Linked DNA regions of Homo sapiens: all the other regions are linked to region 4. Evidence: fine-mapped expression QTL. A gene starts in region 4. Each other region holds a variant in brackets. All regions are shown on one strand. Distances are from middle to middle.

The links. PIP is the estimated chance that this variant, and not a neighbour inherited with it, causes the effect.
Region 1: its variant is the best candidate, but not a certain one, in a credible set for the expression of CHMP1A in whole blood (INTERVAL, PIP 0.68).
Region 2: its variant is the best candidate, but not a certain one, in a credible set for the expression of CHMP1A in skeletal muscle (GTEx, PIP 0.85).
Region 3: its variant is the best candidate, but not a certain one, in a credible set for the expression of CHMP1A in whole blood (INTERVAL, PIP 0.56).

What each region holds. Positions count from the first base shown.
Region 1 is chr16:89,623,424-89,628,564 of GRCh38, reverse strand. The region is part of intron 1 of DPEP1 (dipeptidase 1); the gene reads right to left. Among named protein-coding and RNA genes, the nearest start is that of DPEP1, 12 kb to the right of the region's middle. RefSeq lists enhancers at 1-151, 4,201-5,073. The variant G/A (reference allele first, on the strand shown) is at 1,938.
Region 2 is chr16:89,630,163-89,635,303 of GRCh38, reverse strand. It overlaps DPEP1 (dipeptidase 1), which reads right to left. Exons shown (of 11, transcript NM_001389466.1): 2 at 4,790-4,999. The coding sequence starts at 4,893. Among named protein-coding and RNA genes, the nearest start is that of DPEP1, 19 kb to the right of the region's middle. RefSeq lists an enhancer at 2,388-3,242. The variant G/A (reference allele first, on the strand shown) is at 2,919.
Region 3 is chr16:89,731,583-89,736,723 of GRCh38, reverse strand. ZNF276 (zinc finger protein 276) reads right to left here. Exons shown (of 11, transcript NM_001113525.2): 7 at 3,312-3,422; 8 at 3,167-3,242; 9 at 2,686-2,803. Among named protein-coding and RNA genes, the nearest start is that of ZNF276, 13 kb to the right of the region's middle. The variant C/T (reference allele first, on the strand shown) is at 2,674.
Region 4 is chr16:89,655,182-89,660,301 of GRCh38, reverse strand. CHMP1A (charged multivesicular body protein 1A) reads left to right here and starts at 2,594. Exons shown (of 7, transcript NM_002768.5): 1 at 2,594-2,720. The coding sequence starts at 2,714. It overlaps SPATA33 (spermatogenesis associated 33), which reads right to left and starts at 2,466. Exons shown (of 3, transcript NM_001271907.2): 1 at 2,354-2,466; 2 at 1,881-2,054. The coding sequence starts at 2,390. RefSeq lists an enhancer at 2,313-2,482 and silencers at 2,198-2,587, 2,808-2,867.

The sequences.
Region 1 (5,141 bases), 32 kb after region 4:
CTTTGGGGGCTGGGCAAGGTGGCTCACACCTGTAATCCCAGCACTGTGGGAGGCTGAGGCGGGCGGATCACCTGAGGTCAGGAGTTCGAGATCAGCCTGGGCAACATGGTGAAACCCCGTCTCTACTAAAAATACAAAAATTAGCCAGGCATGGTGGTGCATGCCTGTAATCCCAGCTACTCGGGAGGCTGAGGCAGGAGAATCGCTTGAATCCGGGAGGTGGAGGATGCCATGAGCTGTGATCGCGCCATTGCACTCCAGCCTGGGCGACAAGAGTAAATCTCTATCTCACAAAAAAAAAAAAAAAAGAAAGAAAAGAAAGAAAGAAAGAAATACCTTTTGTGGCCGGGTGTGGTGGCTCACGCCTGTAATCCCAGCACTGTGGGAGGCCGAGGCGGGTGGATCACCAGGTCAGGAGATCGAGACCATCCTGGCTAACATGGTGAAACCCCGTCTCTACCAAAAATAAAAAAAATTAGCCGGGCATGGTGGCGGGTGCCTGGAGTCCCAGCTACTTGGGAGGCTGAGGCAGGAGAATGGCATGAACCCGGGAGGCAGAGCTTGCAGTGAGCCGAGATTGCACCACTGCACTCCCGCCTGGGCGAAAGAGCGAGACTCCGTCTCAAAAACAAACAAAAATACCCTTTGGGAGGCCAAGGCAGGAGGATCACGAGGTTAGGAGTTTGAGACCAGCCTGACCAACATGGTGAAACCCCTTCTCTACTAAAAATACAAAAATTTACTGGGCATGGTGGCCCTTGCCCGTAATCCCAGCTACTTGGAGGCTTTTGGAGGAGAATCACTTGAACCAGGGAGGCGGAGGTTGCAGTGAGCCGAGATTGCAACACTGTACTCCAGCCTGGGTGGCAGAGCAAGACTCCGTTTCAAAAAAAAAAAAAAAAAAAAAAAAAAAGAAGAAATATCCAAGACTGGGTTCCCCTGCCCTTCCTTTCCCTCTTCTCCCCTCCCCTCCTTCCTCTCTCTCTCTCTGAGACAGAGTCTCAGTAGGTCACCCAGGCTGGAGTGCGGTGGCACAATCTCGGCTCACGGCAACCTCTGCCTCAACTGATTCTCATGCCTCGGCCTCCGGAGTAGCTGGGATTACAGGCGCACACCACACCCAGCTAATTTTTTTTGTATTTTTAGTAGAGACAGGGTTTCATCATGTTGGTCAGGCTGGTCTTGAACTCCTGACCTAAAATAATGTGCCCTCCTCGGCCTCCCACAGTGCTGGGATTACAGGTGTGAGCCACCATGCCTGATCCCACATCTGACTTTTTTTTTTTTTTTTTGAGACGGAGTCTCACTCTATTGCCCAGGCTGGAGTGCAGTGGCGCAACCTCAGCTCACTGCAAGCTCTGCCTCCCGGGTTCATGCCATTCTCCTGCCTCAGTCTCCAGAGAAGCTGGGACTACAGGCGCCCGCCACCACGCCCGGCTAATTTTTTTCTTTTTTTTCTTTTTTTTTAGTAGAGACAAGTTTTCACCGTTTTAGCCAGGATGGTCTCGATCTCCTGACCTCGTGATCCGCCCGCCTCGGCCTCCCAAAGTGTTGGGATTACAGGTGTGAGCCACCATACCTGGCCCCACGTCTGACTAATTTTTTATTTTTACTACAGACAGTTTCACCATGTTGGCCAGGGTGGTCTCAAACTCCTGACCCCAAGTGATCCACCCGCCTCGGCCTCCCAAGCTGTTGGGATTACAGGCATGAGCCACCGCGCCTGGCCAAGACTGGGTAATTTTTAAAGGAAAAAAGCCTTCATTGACTCACAGTTCCACATGGCTGGGGAGGCCTCAGGAAAATTACAATCATGGCCGAAGGCAAAGGGAGGCAAGGCATGTCTTAAATGGCAGCGGGGGAGAGAGTTTGAGGGGGGGACTGCCAAACACTTTTAAAAACCAGATCTTAGGCTGGGTGCGGTGGCGCACGCCACC[G/A]CGTGATCCAAGCACTTTGGGAGGCCGAGGCGGGTGGATCACCTGAGGTCCGGAGTTCGAGACCAGCCTGACCAACATGGAGAAACCCCATCTCTACTAATAATACAAAATTAGCCAGGCGCGGTGGCTCATACCTGTAATCCCAGCTACTCGGGAGGCTGAGGCAGGAGAATTGCTTGAACCCGGGAGGTGGAGGTTGCGGGGAGCCAAGATTGTGCCACTGCACTCCAGCCAGCTTGGGCAACAAGAGTGAAACTCCGTCTTAAAAACCACCACCACCAACAAAAACAACAACAAACAGATCTTGTGAGAACTTTCTCGCTACCACGAGAACATGGGGTGAATGGCCCCACGATGCACTCACCTCCAGCGGGTCTCTCCCTTGACAGGTGGGGATTATAATCTGAGATGAGATTTGGGTGGGGACACAGAACCAAACCGCATCACTCAGCTCCACCATTCAGTGCCCAGTGCAACATGAAAATGCGGCACCCTTATTCACACATCGCAAGAATCTCAGGGCCTCTCAGGGCCTCACAGTGGCGGGAGGACGGGGGGCAGGTAGAGGGAGGCACATGTCTTCCGAGCACCAGACCGGGGCCGAAAGCCACGCGTGGACTGCATTTTGCACCGTTTCTGAGGCTCAAAGCCACGGACTTAATTCAACACGAGGGCGTCCTGGGGGTTGGGCAGGGCCCCGTGTCCTGGTAGGCTGTGGGTTCCCCTCTCACGACCACTGTTCAAGGGCAGCGTGGGTGAGCTGGTTCAATTTCTCGGCCTCAGTCTCTTCGTCTGTCAAGTAGAAGTCATGGATGTACCTACTTTACGACAGTCCTGCTGTGAGCACAAAGGTACCAGCCACTCAGATCACCCTCGGATCAAGGTAGTCACCTTACACCTGTCTTTTCCGTGGGGTTTTATAGTTTGTCCCAGAGTTTCCAGTTGCCTTTCTTCTCCTGCCCTACACTGGGTGCCCTTATCTTCCATCTTCCAAGCTCTGGACTCTGCAACCTCCCTCCCTGCCCCCAGAGCCTCCCCTCGTCCAACCTGCTACTCCCAGCCTGGAATGTCAGTGCTCACTTAATGCCTGCACTGAAGGTCTTCCACCTTTGTTTGGTTTATAGTCCTGATAGAGTTTGAATGTTTGTCCAGATCTCACGTGGAAACTGGATCCCAGTTGGGAGGTTTTGTGTCATGGGGACGGGCCCCTCATCAATGGCTTGGTGCAGTTCTGGAGGTAATGAGTTCGTTGGGAAGAGAACTGACGGTTAAAACGAGCCTGGTACCTCCCCCCTCACTCTCTGCCTCCCTCTCTGCACGTGATGCCCTGGGAGCAGGAGAATAGGGTCTGGGGGCAGGGAACTTAGGCCAATTCGTGCTGAATCAAGGAAAAACAGCGAGGCCTGGGGCAGGGAATGGGACGCTAATTTGTGCTGACTTCCTAAAAGAGAAAACACCAAGGTCAGGGGGAGAGAGTCCGAGGCCAAAGCACGCTGAATCCAGGAAAAACTTCAAGGTCTGGGGCAGGGAACCCAGGGCCAATTAACACCAACTTCCAAAAACTACACCCTGAGGAAGAGCCCCACGCCCAGTAGCAAAGGATCAAAGGCTGCTCTCGTACAGCCCCCACCACCATGTCCCAGATGGAAAGGAAAGTGCTGTGGACTGGCTGCGGGCCACCCTTTCATCTGCAGACACCAGTTTACCTCAGCCTTTGATTAGCCACGGACCAAATCTTTCATCCAGATAAGAGGTATAGGAACCATGAAAGGTGCCCTTAAGACCCAGAAAACTGGCCGAGGGGGTGGCTCACACCTGTCATCCCAGCACTTTGGGAGAGTGCGGCGGGTGTATCACCTGAGGCCGGGAGTTCAAGACCAGCCTGGCCAACAAAGAAAAACCCCGTCTCAACTAAAAACACAAAAATTAGCCGGGCGTGGTTGCGGGCGCCTGTCATCCCAGCTACTCCGGAGGCTGAGGCTGGAGAATCGCTTGAACCTGGGAGGCAGAGGTTGCAGTGAGCCGAGATGGCGCCACTGCACTCCAGCCCGGGCGACGGTGTGAGACTCCCTCTCAAAACAAAAAAAAAACAAACCCCAGAAAACTATGTAACAGCGCCCCTCTCACCCCACTCCCGACCTTTCTCGCTTTAATAAATCCCTGCTTTCGCTGCTTTCTTTCCGTGTTTTGTTCGTTACTTTGCACGTTTTGTCCACTTCTTTGTTCAAACGCCGAGGACATGGACTATTACGGTCCAGGCCATCCTTCCAGTGACACCTGCTCCCTCCCCTTCTGCCGTGATGAGAGGTTCCCTGGGGTCCTCACCAAAGGCAGACGCTGGTGCCACGCTTCCCATTCAGCCTCCACAACCATGAGCCAAACCCACCCCTTTTCTCTATAGATGACCCAGCCTCGGGGATTTCTTTGGAGCAATGCAAAGCAGACTAAACCCTATTCCATTAGAGTTGGCCCTGCAACCATTCCCTAGCAGCGGGTCGGCAGGAATTCACTCCCCAGTCCTCCTGTCTGTCTTTATTCTGCCCTCATCAGTAGTTTCTCTGGATGTGCACTTTGGGCGGGAAACCTTTGTCCCTCAGGAGGTGACCGCACCACAGTCCGTCTGTGCATGTGTGGTGGATGGGCCCGGCTGTGTGTGGGCAACCGCTGTTCCCTCCAGGCCTGGAGCTGCCTCTTTCCTCGGAGCGCCACGACTTCTCAGCCACGTGCTTTAGTGTGAGGCTTTTTCACTCCCTGGAGCGTTTCCTCTGCCTCCGGTCCAGGGAATTTCCAGTCGCCCGTATCCCTCTTCTTCCCCTCCTTTCTGAGCTCCGTCTGGCCAGGGTTTCAGGCAGGGGTTGCACTGTCTGAGCTTCCTTTCTGCCTCCTGTCCTGGCTTTCTTCCTGCTTATCCTGTGCACTCCATTTCCTCTGTTTTGTCTCCCAGCACGGTTCTTTCGTGTTTTCTTGGGGGTTGTGCGTCTGGTCTCCGGAGGGCGGTTTCCAAGGTTTGCTGTGTTCTTTTCCGCCCCGCTCCCGTCAGGGAAGCAGATCTGCTTGGACTCAGCTACACTCTGTTCTCTTCTGAGGTTTACCAAACGGAATGCAGACGCGTCTCCCATTGTTCATCTGGACCTTCTGTTGGGTTTGCAGACTTCCCTTGGCAGCGGGCAATCTTTGTCACTACAAATTTCATATTTAAAAATA
Region 2 (5,141 bases), 25 kb after region 4:
AAGGACTGAAGTTCTCCAAGGTTTTCCCAGGAGCTGGTGGTGGTGAGGGTAGGAGCTCTCGTGAGGAAAAATGAGAAGGAAGGGGAAAGGAGAAGGAAGGGGAAAGGAGAAGGAAGGGGAAAGGAGAAGGAAGGGAAAGGGAAGGAAGGGGAAAGGAGAAGGAAGGGAAAGGAGAAGGAAGGGAAAGGAGAAGGAAGGGAAAGGAGAAGGAAGGGAAAGGAGAAGGAAGGGAAAGGAGAAGGAAGGGAAAGGAGAAGGAAGGGAAAGGGAAGGAAGGGGAAAGGAGAAGGAAGGGAAAGGAGAAGGAAGGGAAAGGAGAAGGAAGGGAAAGGAGAAGGAAGGGAAAGGAGAAGGAAGGGAAAGGAGAAGGAAGGGAAAGGGAAGGAAGGGGAAAGGGAAGGAAGGGAAAGGAGAAGGAAGGGAAAGGGAAGGAAGGGAAAGGAGAAGGAAGGGAAAGGAGAAGGAAGGGAAAGGAGAAGGAAGGGGAAAGGGAAGGAAGGGGAAAGGAGAAGGAAGGGAAAGGAGAAGGAAGGGAAAGGAGAAGGAAGGGAAAGGAGAAGGAAGGGGAAAGGAGAAGGAAGGGAAAGGGAAGGAAGGGAAAGGGAAGGAAGGGAAAGGAGAAGGAAGGGGAAAGGGAAGGAAGGGGAAAGGGAAGGAAGGGAAAGGGAAGGAAGGGAAAGGAGAAGGAAGGGGAAAGGAGAAGGAAGGGAAAGGAGAAGGAAGGGGAAAGGAGAAGGAAGGGAAAGGAGAAGGAAGGGGAAAGGAGAAGGAAGGGGAACGCAGAGGAAGGGGGAGCTGGGGCTGTCAGAGCTGGTGGCTGAGTGAGGATCCCAGAGGGTCCGAATCCAGCTGCCCAACAGGGCCTGGCAGAGACCAGGAGCAAAGGGAATCCACTGTCGTTAGGAATGCAATTCTCAGGCCAGGCAGGGTGGCTCATGCCTGTAATCCCAGCACTTTGGGAGGCCGAGGTGGGCAGATCACAAGGTCAGGAGATCGAGATCATCCTGGCTAACATGGTGAAACCCCGTCTCTACTAAAAATACAAAAATTAGCCGGGAGTGGTGGCGGGTGCCTGTAGTCCCAGCTACTCAAGAGGCTGAGGCAGGACAATGGCAGGAACCCAGGAGGCAGAGCTTGCAGTGAGCCGAGATCGCACCACTGCACTCCAGCCTGGGCGACAGAGCGAGACTCCCTCCAAAAAAAAAAAAAAAAGAAGAAGAGAAGAGAAAAGAAAAATAGAAATGCAGCTCTAAGGGGCCCAGGGCAGGCTCTAGGCTACGATCTCATCTGTGTTTCAACCAGGCTGTGAGGAGGATGGGAAGGGGCTGAGGCCTGACCCCCGACCCTGGGGAATGCCCAGGGTTCCCCTTCCCCGTCACTGGGTCTGGGGCCTCAGTCTCCTTCCTGTAATGTGGGCTGTGCCCCTGTCTCGGGGGGACTGCCTTGTGAGGGTGTGCGCTGGGATGAGGCCACAGGGGCCCCTCCACTTGCAGTTTCCAGACCCATCCCTGTGCCTCAGTTTCCCCATCTGTAACATGAGGGTGTCTTGGTGCCTTCCTTGGAGGACAGCTCCCTCTGTGTCTCAGTTTCCCCATCTGTAACATGAGGGTGTTTTGGTGCTCTCCTTGAGGACAGCTCCCTCTGTGTCTCAGTTTCCCCATCTGTAACATGAGGGTGTCTTGGTGCTTTCCTTGGAGGGCAGCTGGGAGAGGCAGATGAGTAACTGTTAATCATTTCCAGCTGCGGGCTCTGCTTTCTGTGACCCAGCTCAAATCTATGTGCCCGCAATGAGCTTTTCCAAGGCGAATGCACCCATGGAGCTCCTCAGGGGAAAGAAGGGGAGGGCTCTGCCCTTCCTGGGTCCCAGTCGTTCCTGACCTCCCCTGGGCTAGTGCCCCCAAGCCCAGCCTGGCACGCTTTCCGGCCCCACCCCTGGGCAGATGGGCGGGCGCACGCCTGATGCTGGTGTGAGTCTCTCCCAAAGCTCCTGCGTCAGCGAGGTTGTCCCTGGCCACAGCGAGTCCACATGACAGCCTGGGCTGGCACGGGCCTCTCCCCAGCCCTCGGAGCAGAGTGGGTGGTCAGGACGCACTTGCTGAGGGAACCATGAGCTCCAGCCAGGGACCCTGCCCGGGCAGCAGCCTCATCGCTAGGTGCAACCCTACACTGGGCACTGTCCTGGGTGGGGCTGGGCAGGGCTCCCAGGAGACTTTACTCCTTGGCCTGAGGACGCAGGCGGCCCATCTCAGACATTAGCCTGGGATGGGTAGGGATTCCTAGGACCCCAGGAGCCGCCCTTGGAGGGACAGGCTGCAATGGGGCAGCTCTCTGCTCTCCCCTCCCTCCTCCTCCTGCAGCCCCTCCTTTCTTTTTTCTTTTTGAGACAGGGTCTCACTCTGTTGCCCAGGCTGGAGGGCAGGGGTGCAATCACAGCTCACTGCAGCCCCCAACCTTCTGGGTTCAAGCAGTCCTCCCACCTCGGTCTCCCAAAGTGCTGGGACCACACCTGTGAGCCACTGTGCCCCGCCAGCCCTCTCCACTCTTGCTGGAGAAAACGATGGGAAGGTGGGGCCTCTGGTTTCTCAGTGGGAGGGAGGCCCTGCCTGCCTCATGGCCAGGGCAAATGGCAGTTCTGCTAATCAGACCCACCCTCCTTATCTGTGCAGCTGGGGCAATGCCCTTAGCTGGGATATGGAAGCCGGCGTCCTGCTCCAAGGAGTGCTGGAAAGTGCTGGAAAAGCGGCAAGCACACACTCAGGCAGCTGTTCGTGGGGAGACTGCTGGCTGCCCCCGGGATCCATTCTCCTCCTTTTCCTTTGTGACTTTAAAACCCCCCGTTTTTAGCGGGCACACAGCCATTTGGGTTGAAGATACTTCCTGCCCCTGTGTCGCTGGCGGTGGCCAAGGGATGAAGGTGG[G/A]TCCCGTAACAGCTTCTAACAACTGTGACCCCCGGCCGGGCGCGGTGGCTCACGCCTGGAATCCCAGCACTGTGGGAGGCCGAGGCGGGCGGATCACCTGAGGTCAGGAGTTCGAGACCAGCCTGGCCAACATGGTGAAACCCTGTCTCTACTAAAAATACCAAAAAAATTAGCCGGGCTTGGTGGCGGGCGCCTGTAATCCCAGCTACTCAGGAGGCTGAGGCAGGAGAATTGCTTAAATCCAGGAGGCAGAGGTTGCAGCGAGCTGAGATCACGCCACTGCACTCCAGCCTGGGTGACAGGTGACAGAGTGAGACTCTGTCTCAAAACAAAACAAAACAAAAACCTGACCCTGACAGTCACCTGCTGCTTGTCCTTTTTCCCTTCTTTATGTCTCCCTCCTCCCTGCTGGCCAGCATACAGATGTGAGGGCTGAAGCTGGCATGGCCATTTTAAACCATGAGGATGCAGGGACCACCCTCTGCTCCCTTTCTGCAGCTGCCTCTGCTCTCTTAAGTTTTTTTAATTTGAGATGGAGTCTCACTCTGTTGCCCAGGCTGAAGTACAGTGGCCCGATATTGGGTCACTCTAGCCTCCGCCTCCCGAGTTCAAGTGATTCTCCTGCCTCAGCCTCCTGAGTATCTGGGACTACAGGCATGCGCCACCATGCCTGGCTAATTTTTTGTATTTTTAGTAGAGACAGGGTTTCGCCATGTTGGCCAGGCTGGTCTTGAGCTCCTGACCTCAGGTGATCCGCCCGCCTCGGCCTCCCAAAGTGCTGGGATTACAGGCGTGAACTGCCCAGCCTGGACTGTTCCCTGAAGTTCTTATGCGACAAGACATCGGGTTTCCCTGCTTTTTTCACAGTTTTTCCCCAACAAAGCCCAGAGGCATTTTCCAGGTGGAGACACCATGCCAGACACAGGGCGGACTCTCAGTGACCCTCCCACCCCAACGCGGAGCCAGTGTGGACCCTGATCTGAGTCTGGTGCCTGGAAGCAGGAGGCCTCCATGGTGACCCAGTGTCGGGGCACTGGGCCAGGAAGGGGCGGGGAAGAGGGTCGGATTCCCGGGCAGTGGGGATCTCCGCCCTGAGGAGGTCAGGACAGAAGCAGGTGACCCAGGTGCCCCAGCGAGGTCGGGGGTGGGGGCCGGGTGGGCACACAGCGCAGCACAGGCAAGGGCCCAAGTGGCATGGGCCTCCCCCCGGGAGAAGGCAGGCCGGGGGGAGTGGGAAGAGAGCCAAAAAGATGCCGGCTGAGAGGGCCTGTAGGGTGCCACCCGCACCTGCTGCTTTTGGGAGAAGCTGAGGCACAGGGTGAGATTGGGGCGCAGGGCCTCCACGTCCGCAGGCTCAGACCTCACTCTGAGCTTCGGGACCAGGGAGTGTGGCCTTGCCTCCTTCCTGCCCAGTCCCTGCAGACCTTCATCCGCTGAAGTCTTTGGGGGCCCTGAGAGACCCCACAAAGCAGCAGGGGCCAGGAAAGGGCAAGGGCCCGGCACCGTCGCAGAAGCTGAAACTGAGCCCCAACCCAAGGGCACACGAGTCTCACCCCCAGAGAAACTGAGCCCCAAGCCAAGCACACACGAGTCTCACCCCCAGCTCCCCCAGCCCCAACTCCCCAGGCCAAACTCCCCCAGCCCCGGCACCCCCAGCCCCGGCACCCCCAGCCCCGGCTCCCCCAGCCCCGGCACCCCCAGCCCCGGCACCCCCAACCCCGGCTCCCCCAGCCCCGGCACCCCCAGCCCCGGCACCCCCAGCCCTGGCTCCCCCAGCCCCGCTCCCCCAGCCCCGGCTCCCCCAGCCCCGCTCTCCCAGCCCCAGTTCCCAGTCCTGGTTCCCTAAGCACCTGGCTCAGGTGAGCACTCACCCATCAATGACAGGGGAGTCCCTCATGATCCTCTCTGCCTCGTCCCGAAAGAAGTCTGCAGTGCAGACGGCCACAAGGGGCCACAGCCACCATCCGCTCCACATGGTGGGGTCCCCGGGGACCTGTGTGCACTGCTGCCCTGGTGCCTCTGTGCTGGCCTGGCTGGCCCGTGCAGAAGGATGAGCTTCAGGCTGTGAGGAGCCACTCTGCCTGCCAGGAGAGGCACCAGAGGTGTGGGTGGAAGTGATGACAGGTGGCTGCTCTCCTGTTTATAGCTTCCCATGTTCAATAAGTAACCAGCACATTCCCCACCAGGGTGGGTAGGATGGAAGGCCGGACACTCAATGACTGG
Region 3 (5,141 bases), 76 kb before region 4:
TCCCAGGCTTAAGTGATCCTCCTGCCTCAACCTCTCAAGTAGCTGGGACCACAGGTGTGCACCACCACACCCAGGTAATTTAAAAAATTTGGGGGGCCGGTGCAGTGGCTTACACAAAGTGCTCAATCCCAGCACTTTGGAAGGCCAAGGCAGGCGGATCATGAAGTCAGTTCAAGACCAGCCCCAGCCCAATCAATATGGTAAAACCCTGTCTCTACTAAAAATACAAAAATTAGCCAGGTGTGGTGGCACACACCTGTAGTCCCAGCTACTCGGGAGGCTGAGGCAGCAGAATTGCATGAACCCAGGAGGTGGAGGTTGCAGTGAGCTGAGATTGCACAGCTGCACTCCAGGCTGGGCGACACAGACTGTCCCGGAAAAAAAAAAAAAAATTGGGGGCTGGGCACGGTGGCTCATGCCTGTAATCCCAGCACTTTGGGAGGCCAAGGCAGGCAAATCACCTGAGGTCAGGAACTCGAGACCAGCCTGGCCAACATAGCAAAACCTGCCTCTCTACTAAAAATAGAAAAATTACCCAGGCGTCATGGCTCACGCTTATAATCCCAGCACTTCGGGAGGCCGAGGCAGGTGGATCACAAGGTCAGGAGATTGAGACCAGCCTCACTAACGTGGTGAAACCCCGTCTGTACTGAAAATACGAAAAATTAGTTGGGTGTGGTGGCCAGCACCTGTAGTCCCAGCTATTTGGGAGGCTGAGGCAGGAGAATGGCTTTACCCCAGGAAGAGGAGCTTGCAGTGAGCTGAGATTGTGCCACTGCACCCCAGCCTGGGCGACAAGAGCAAGACTCAGTCAAAAAAACAAACAAACAAACAAAAAAAAACACCCCCGGCGTGGTGGCAGATGCCTGTAATCCCAGCTACTCAGGAGGCTGAGACAGGAGAATTGCTTGAACTAGGGAGGTGGAGGTTACAGTGAGCCAAGATCGCGCCACTGCACTCCAGCCATGGTGATAAGAGTGAGACTGTTTCCATCAATAAATTAAAAAAAAAGTTTTTGGTAAAGACGGCCTCACTATGTTGCCCAGGCTGGTGTCAAAATCCTGGCCTCAAGCAATCCTACTGCCTTAGCCTCCAAAGTGCTGCGATTACAGGCATGAGCCACTGCACCCGGCCCAATTTCAGGTTTTTAAGGAACTGCTGGTTGTGACCATCAGTGACCGGACAGATGCAGAGTCTGAAGGACCAAACCCAAGGAAGTGCTGCCATCAGGAGAGATGTCGGAGAACCCAAAAAATAACAACCCGCATGTCGGGAGATGACCCAGCAGTGAAAAGCAATCCTAATGAAAAAATACTTCAGTAAATTCAAGTAAGAATAAATAATTCTTATTCTGTAATAAGTTCAAAACCAAGGAAAACTGTGTGTGTAAGGATCAATATACAGTTGTCCTCAGCTGGTTCCAGGCCCCCCCCCACCCCTTACCAAAATCTGCTCATACTGAAGTCCCGAAGTTAGCCCTGCAAAGACCCTACAGAACCTGCACTTAGGAAAAGGCAGCCCTCTGAATACCAGGGATTCGAGTCCCTGACCATGGATATGTGGGTCCACGTGGTTCAAACAAGTTTTTTTTTTGAGACAGTGTCTCACTGTTGCCCAGGCTGGAGTGCAGTGGTGTGATCTCGGCTCACTGCAACCTCCACCTCCGCCTCCCAAGTAGCTGTGCCTACAGGCGTGTGCCACCACACCCAGATAATTTTTGTATTTTTAGTAGAGACCAGGTTTTACCATGTTGGCCAGGCTGGTCTTGAACTGCTGACCTCAGGTGATCCACCCACCTCAGCCTCCCAAAGTGCTGGGATTACAGGTGTGAGCCACCACGCCCGGCCAAGTTTGTCATTTTGAAAACATATCCTTGTTGGATTATAAAAGTAACTTGTGCATTATAGAAATTGTGAAAAATAAGACGGGCACAGAGACAGCACCCTCAGTCATAATTCCCCCATCCGCCTCCGGTCTTAATGACACGACCTACACACATGTGAAAAGGCAGAACCACACGTGCCTCCCGCCTGTCCACGTGGGCAGCTCCCCAGAGCTGGTGTGCCTTCATGCCTTCTGCCTTGCCTTTTAAGATACACTTGTTTGGGCCAGGTGCAGTGCTCACACCTGTAATCTCTGCACTTTGGAAGGCTGAGATCACTTGAGGTCAGGAGTTAGAGATCACCCTGGCCAACATGGTGAAACCCCGTCTCTACCAAAAATTACAAAAATTAGCCAGGCATGGTTGCGGGTGCCTGTAATCCCAGCTACTTGGGAGGCTGAGGCGGGAGAATTGATTGAACCTGGGAGGCAGAGGTTGTGGTGAGCCAAGATGGTGCCACTGCACTCCAGCCTGGGCAACAGAGCAGGACTCCGTCTCAAAAAAAAATTAAAAAATAAAATGACCAATTTGCAAAAGGACACCAAGATTGCTTGGCTATTAGTTTTGACAAACTGCCTAGATCCTGGGGAAGTCAGGAATTCCTTCCATCACAGGGAAGGGCAGATTCACACTGACGCCCTACTCTAGCCTTCATCTACCAACGTGACTGAGTACCAAAGACCCCATGAGCCACCTTCACGCACCCCCAACTCTTGGGGCGGGGATGGGTATGAGGAAGACTGGAAAGCAGGTCACGTGCCCCTGGCTGTCACCCGCGTGGGCGACACTGG[C/T]GATAGGCGTACCTGTGTGGATGAGCTTCACGTGGCGCTGCAGGTAGCGGTCGATCATGAAAACCTTGTTGCAGCCAGGGTGGGGGCAGGGCCGCTCCCGGACCTCCTCGTGGTGCTCCTTGATGTGCTTCTGAAGGAGAGACTCGGTGAGAGACCCTCAGAGCCGCACCCGGGCCACATGGCACGAGCCCTCAGTAGGTGACAGCTGAGGCCCCTGGAAGGCAGATCCAACTCCTCCTCCAGCGACACCACTGGCTCCTTCACAGCTTCACTCCAAGAAACTTCTAGACCCCCCGGGGGGTGTCTCAAGTGAAAGTCTGGCCTCACATCTACCCCCAAGGATGGCACTGGCTAGGACTGCTTCAGGTCTCGGTTAACCTAGGTCAAAGTGTCCTTGGGCGCAAGTCTGAGTTAGGCTGCAGAAACACCTGCTACCTCCCCCAGGTTCACACTGACAGCTGCCGGGCCTGGGTCAGGCACAGCCAGTGCTCACCTTCATGCCGTCAGCGCCTCGGTACACGGCCGTGCAGCCCTGGTAAGGACACTTGTAGATGGTGGGAAGCTCCTCCCTGCAATGAAGAGCATGCATGGAGCCCCGGCCCCGACAGGCAGGGCGAGCCTCGCGTTGCAGGCATCACCTCTCACAACGAAGCTTCTTCTTCCATCCGGGCTTGGGTCCCGGCTTCTTCCGAATTCTTGGTTCTTCAGACTTCTTGGCTTCTTTGCTTTCACTCTTCTTACCAGAGACTCTGAAAAAAAGAGGTTCCCAAATTCAATGGTTTCTGATCTCCATTTGCAAAATGTTTTTTGTCTCTCCAACCTGAGAAATGGTCTTTTCTGAAGCTTCCCTGAGTTGCTTCTGTGCTGACTGACCCTCAGAATCTACCTGAAGCCACCAAAGCCAGAGCAACTCTGGACAGGAGGCCTCAGGGGCGAGCACAGCAGAGGGCAAGGGCGCAGGACACAGCAGGGTCAGGGGTGAACACAGCAGAGGGCGAGGGCGCAGGGTACAGCAGGGTCAGGGCAAACACAGCAGAGGGCGAGGGCGCAGGGTACAGCAGGGTCAGGGCGAACACAGCAGAGGGGGAGGGCACAGCAGAGGATGAGGGCGCAGGGTACAGCAGGGTCGGGGTGAACACAGCAGAGGGCGAGGGCGCAGGGTACAGCGGGGTACAGCAGGGTCAGGGCGAGCACAGCAGAGGGCAAGGGCGCAGGACACAGCAGGGTCAGGTGAACACAGCAGAGGGTGAGGGCGCAGGGTACAGCAGGGTCAGGGTGAACACAGCAGAGGGCGAGGGCATGGTACAGCAGGGTCAGGGGCAAACGGCAGAGGACGAGGGCGCAGGGTACAGCAGGGTCGGGTGAGCACAGCAGAGGGCGAGGACGCAGGGTACAGGAGGGTCAGGGCAAACACAGCGGAGGGCGAGGGCACAGGGTACAGCAGGGGTGGGTTCTGAGAACTAAAGCTTCACCCTGTGCTACACATAAAACCCACAACTAGAGGTATCAGGACGGCAGAACAGGGATGTCCAAAGGACCACTCCTTTATCAAAACGACCTTACGCTAGGAAAAAGCTCAGAATCCACTCTCTCAAAATGGGTCAGCTTGATTCCAAGCTCAAGCCACCCAGGCAGGGCTTCAGAGGAACAGGTGATGCTCCCTGGGAAGCACACGGTGAGTAGCTGCCACCCCAGCATTCCTCAACCCCGCCTCCACTGCAGGGAGCCCAGCCTGTGTTCCTGGAGCTGCTGGCTGGGACCATGGTGGGCAGGAGACCTTGTCCTCCAAAAGTCTGGGGTCGTGCATTTTAGTTGGTCTGGCAAGTCCCTGAGGGACCAGCAAATGCAGCAGCTTCCAGTGTGCGTCTATCGGAGACTTAAAGAGAGAGACGCACTTGTGGTTCCTTTCTGGATCCAGGTAAGAATAGTTAAGGAAATATCTCAAGAACAGAAAGGAACTTCTTCACCACGATAAAACCTCTACATGAAACCCACAGCAGACACCACGCTCAACTGTGAAGGACTGAAAGCTCTTCCTCCAAGGTCAGGAACAAGATACGGATTCTCTCACCACTGCTCTCAGGGCAGCACTGGAGGCCCTAGCCAGAGTAACTGGGCAAGAAAAAGAAAACAAAGACAAATTCTCCCTATTCACAAATGACACGACCTTCTACGTAGAAAACCCTAAAGATCCACATACAAAAAACCCTAATTAATTATTTCAGCAAAGTTGCAGGGCACAAAATCCATACACAAAACCCAGTTATGTTTCTATATATTATCAATGAACAATACATATGCAATAGCATGAAAAAAGTAGTTTACACTGCCGAGTCCAGTGGCTCATGTTGGCAGTCCCAGCACCCTGGGAGGCTGAGGTGAGAGGCTCACTTGAGCGCACAGGGCTGCAGTCAGCCATGATCGTGCCAGGGCACCCCAGCCTAGGCAACAACATGAGACCCTGTCGC
Region 4 (5,120 bases):
CTGCAGAGGCTGGGCAGGCGAAGCCTTCCTGGGAAAGGTTTCCTTGCTAATATGAAGCAAGGAGCAATGCCTTTGCAGTAGATGCAGTCCTGCCTGCGTGTGGGGGGCTGTACACTCATCGGGGGCTGTGGACACTGAGAGTGGTCAAGAAGAGACACGCAAAGTCTTTGATGTCACTGTTGTGCTAACAAGCCAACCTGGAAGCTCCACCTCTGACCCTTCATTCGTGAGACATTAAATCCCTGTGTTAAAGCTGCGTTTAGTGAGCTTTTCTGTAACTTTCAGCTAAAAGCACCGTGACAGACAGGTAGCATTTTCCAAACTGCCACCCAAGGGTGATGCTATTCCTGCAGGGTTCCATCCTCCGGTGGGGGGTTGCGCCCTCCTGTGAGGGGTTCCACCCTCCAGTGGGAGGTTCCAAAGTTGGGAATTCAAATCCAAGTCTTTCTTCCAAGTCCAAGGCCCAGAGCCTCCTACTTTCAGCCCTTGATCCTACAAGCGTGTCAGTGTGAAGCAGTCCAGGCCCAGCTCCTCTGCCTAGCAGGCCAGTCATCCCCCTGACATTCTTTCTTGTCTGACCCGAGTGGTTCTCTCCTTATTATTTTTTTTTTTTTCTGAGACAGAGTCTCACTCTGTAGCCCAGGCTGGAGTGCAGTGGTGCGATCTCGCTCACCACTACTTCTGCCTCCCGGGTCCCGGTTCAAGGTTCGAGCAATTCTCCTGCCTCAGCCTCCTGAGTAGCTGGGATTACAGGCACATGCCACCACGCCCAGCTAATTTTTGTATTTTTAGTAGAGACAGGGTTTCACCACGTTGGCCAGGCTGGTCTTGAACTCCTGACCTTAAGTGATCCACACGCCTCGGCCTCCCAAAGTGCTGGGATTACAGGCGTGAGCCACTGCGCCCAGCCGAGTGGTTCATTCTTGTGATGAAACTTAAAACACCTCCTCCTGGCACAGGCCCCCAATCTCCTCGGACGGCAGGCTCTGCGGGTTCTCCCTGCCTGACCCTTCTGCAATTCCTACTGCAAGGCCTTGCTGGCTCCCACTGGGCCACAGCAATGGGTCTCTGACCGGGCCACCTCCCCTGCGAACTGGCTTCCCCTGTTGGTAGGCACAGACCTCATCATGCCGCCCTTGTTTTTTATTTTTAAATATTTATTTTTTGTAGAGACAGGGTCTCACTATGTTGCCCAAGCTGGTCTTGAACTCCTGGGCTCAAAAGATCCTCCTGCCTCGGCCAAATAACTGGGAGGACAGGTGTGAACTACCGCCCCAGGCAGCACCTCCGTTGTTTAAAATATTTAACGCTTCCAGCTCCACGTGGTAAAACTGATGGAAAACTTTGTATTCTAGCTTCTTCCTACTTTTGGGGCCTCATCTTCCCCACACACACCCAAAGGTCTGGCCACACTAGGCTGTTATAAAAGACACCTTTGTCGCACCCAGGTTCTACTCCTCGGTCACCCTCCGCAATGTACTTATCCCCACAGCCCTCGGAGAGCTACAGTCCAGCCTGGGACGGCCTCCCAATGCTCTGTTCCAGTGTGCGGAGGCTCAGGGATTCTCAGTGGCACCAAGATACCCAGCCCTCGAGGAGAACCTCAGGTGAGACACACGCACACTGCCCCAGCCCCTCGACCACCTGGTACGCACTTATCACTCGGGAACTGACCTACATTTTCATTAAACTTATGTTTTCAACTAAGATTTCTGGATATTTACCTCCTACATAAAGTTCCCAAAACAAACCAGTTTCATCTTTACGGCGCGTGCCTGCTACTAGTGTCCATCCGGTAGGGTCTTACAGTAGGCTCCTCACCCCAGCCCCAGATCCTCCAAGCCACTGACCTCGCTTCGCTCCCTCCCGCCGTCTCCTACCTTCCAGCGAAGCTGCCGGCGGCGGGTGCTTGGCTGTCCCGGCCCCCGGGTGGAGGCTGTCCACAGGCTTCTCCGACTCCCTGTCTGCCTGCCTGGCTTCCTGGGAATGCTTCTCCATCAACTTCTCCTTAGATTTTGGAACTGAATAGGTGGATCCCTTCTTTTGCTCCTCACCTGAAATATATGGATCATCCGTTAGACCCGGGACTTACCGAATGCAGGGCAGTGGGTCCCATCGTCTTCAGTCGCCTGCGTGGGTCCAGAATAAGCTGGCTTCAAGTCTCGAGTCTCCGCGTTTCCGTAACCGCCTCAGGCGGGAAACGCGCCGTCCGTGGCGGACTCGGCGGCAGGAACGGTTCGCACCGGGCCGAGCCTGGCGCCTGCGCTCACACCGCCCCGCCCAGCCCAGCCCCGCCCTGGGCCCGCGCCCAGGGGCGGAGACGCGGGGAGCCCAGCGCCTGCGCCTCCTTTACCTTTCCTGGGTTTCTCTTTGCTTTTGGAAAGGCCCATGGGTGAGCCCACCGCCCCCTCCGACGCAAGCCCGGGTCCCCACACCTCCGCGGCCGCGGAGCCGGGAGCGACTCACAAAAGGTCCTCGCGCCAGCGGCGTGCGTCACCATGGCGACCGCGCGCCGCGCAGCCGCGCCCCGCCCCTCTGGCGGGACCGGCCACCATCCTCTCGCGAGAGCATCCCGTGCGACCGGAAGTGGGGCGGCGACCCCGGAAGTCCCCGCCGGGTGCAGCTTGGTCGGTTCGATCGCCGCCGGGACCTGACACCGCCCGGAGTTGGCGTCCCTTCTCCCTCTCCGAGTGCTGCTCCTGTCATTGTGGCCATGGACGGTAAGAGGTCGCGGCCGTCCTCCGGGGACTCGCGCGCGGGGCGGGGCCGCTTCTCCCACTGGCGTGGGCTCCGCCCACCTGGGGCCGCGGGCAGGACTCAGGAGAGCTCGGGCCTCGACCGTCGATCCCCCGGGACCCCATCCCCAGGGCCTCGACCACCGACCTGGGACCCCTTTTCCCGGTCGTCGTCCCCCGATCCCCGACCCGGACCCCATCCCCAGGGCCTCGACCACCGACCTGGGACCCCTTTTCCCGAGCCTCGTCCCCCGATACCCGACCCGGAACCCCTTCCCCAGGGCCTAGACCACCAACCCGGGACCCCTTTTCCCGGGCCTCGACCCTCGATCCCCGACCCGGAACCCCTTCCCCAGGGCCTCTACCACCGACCCGGGACCCCTTCTCCCGGGCCTCGACCCCCGACCACCGACCGGGACCCTTCCCAGGCCCCCGACCCCCAACCCGAGATCCTTTACCCCGGGCCTCGACCCTCGACCCGGGACCCCTCCCCCCAGGCCTCGATCCCCGACCCCCGATTCGGGACCCCTTCCCCGGGGCCTCCATCCCCAAATCTCAACCCGGTATGCCTTCCCCGGGGCCTCGACCTCTGACCCCCAACCATGGACCCGGGACCTAGACTCCCGACCCAGGACCCCTTGCCCAGGGCCTGGACCCCCGACCACCGACCCAGGACCCTTTCCCCCGCCCCTGGCACTCCTCAGCGTCAGGCGCCCTTTCCCGCCAGCTCGGTAGGGGGGACTGTGCGATGCCTGTTCGGCCTTTCGGGACTTGGAATGTCGGGTCAGAGGGCACCAGAAAAAGTGACAGTTGCACCCCCTGCCCCAAACAGCATCACTGCAAATCAGAAGGACTCAGACAGAAAGCGCTCCCTGAGTGCCAGGCCCTGGTCACAGCAGCTCTTTGCGTCCATTCTCCATGTGGGGAAGCAGAGGTTTGAGCAGGAGCCAGCACAAGCGTTTCTGTGCTCAATGGGTCGCCCTAATTCTTACCTTCTACATCTGGGGCTAGCCGGCTGTGTGCTCAGGGATACCAAAGAACAGGAAGAATCTGGCAAAATGAAGTCCTATGTTTGCTGAAACATCGTTGGGCTGGTGTGATGGGCAGGCTTTTAAAAATACTTTTTGAAGGGCTGGGCGCGGTGGCTCACGCCTGTAATCCCAGCACTTTGGGAGGCCGAGGCCGGCGGATCGCAAGGTCAGGAGATCGAGACCATCCTGGCTAACACAGTGAAACCCCATCTCTACTAGAAATACAAAAATATTAGCCAGGCGTGGTGGCGGGTGCCTGTAGTCCCAGCTACTCGGGAGGCTGAGGCAGGAGAATGGCGTGAACCCGGGAGGCGGAGCTTGCAGTGAGCCGAGATCGCGCCACTTCACTCCAGCCTGGGCGACAGAGCGAGACTCCGTCTCAAAAAAAATTCTTTTAGTTAGAAGTGTGAAAAGCTATAGTACCACCGTGTCATCATCATGAAGGAAATGTGTAGAGATTTTCTGCCCTGAGAGAAGATGAAAGATAACATCTACCTCCCGCCACAAAAAATATGCTGGCCAGGCCGGGTGTGGTGGCTCAGGCCTGTAACCCCAGCACTCTGGGAGGCCGGGCGCGGTGGCTCACGGCTGTAATTCCAGCACTTTGGGAGGCCGGATGTGGTGGCTCACGCCTGTAACCCCAACACTTTGGGAGGCCGAGGTTGGTTGATCACCTGAGGTCAGGAGTTTGAGACCAGCCTGGCCAACATGGTGAAACCCCGTCTCTTCTAAAAATACAAAAATTAGCTGGGCCTGGTGGCGTGCACGTGTAATTCTAACTACTTGGGAGGCTGAGACAGGAGAATCGCTTAAACCTGGGAGGCAGAGGTTGCAGTGAGCCAAGATGGTGCCGTTGCACTCTAGCCTGGGTGATAGAGTGAGACTCCGTCTCAAAAAAAAAAAAGAAAAATTGTGGCTTTTCACTCCACAGCTCACTCAACTCTTTTGAGGGGACTTCTCTCAAGCCCATGTCAGATTTCCTCAGAGTCAGATTTTGCCTTAGCTGGGTTTTTGTGCTGCCACACACGGCTGGAAGAGAAAGCTGAGGTGAGGAAAGCTGAGGTGAGGGAAAGCTGAGGTGAGGAAAGCTGAGGTGAGGAGAGCTGAGGTGAGGGAAAGCTGAGGTGAGGGAAAGCTGAGGTGAGGGAAAGCTGAGGTGAGGGAAAGCTGAGATGAGGAGGGCGGTTTGGCCAGCATCCCACAGTGAGTTGGGTGGGACGGCCCGCCTGGCCTGCACTGTGCCATCTGGGTCAGGCTGGCTGTTTTCCAGTCACAGATAACCTTGGCCGTGACCACACCTGAACTGATAGATGACAGGTTGAACTTGGCCTTGACCACGCCTGCACTGACAGGC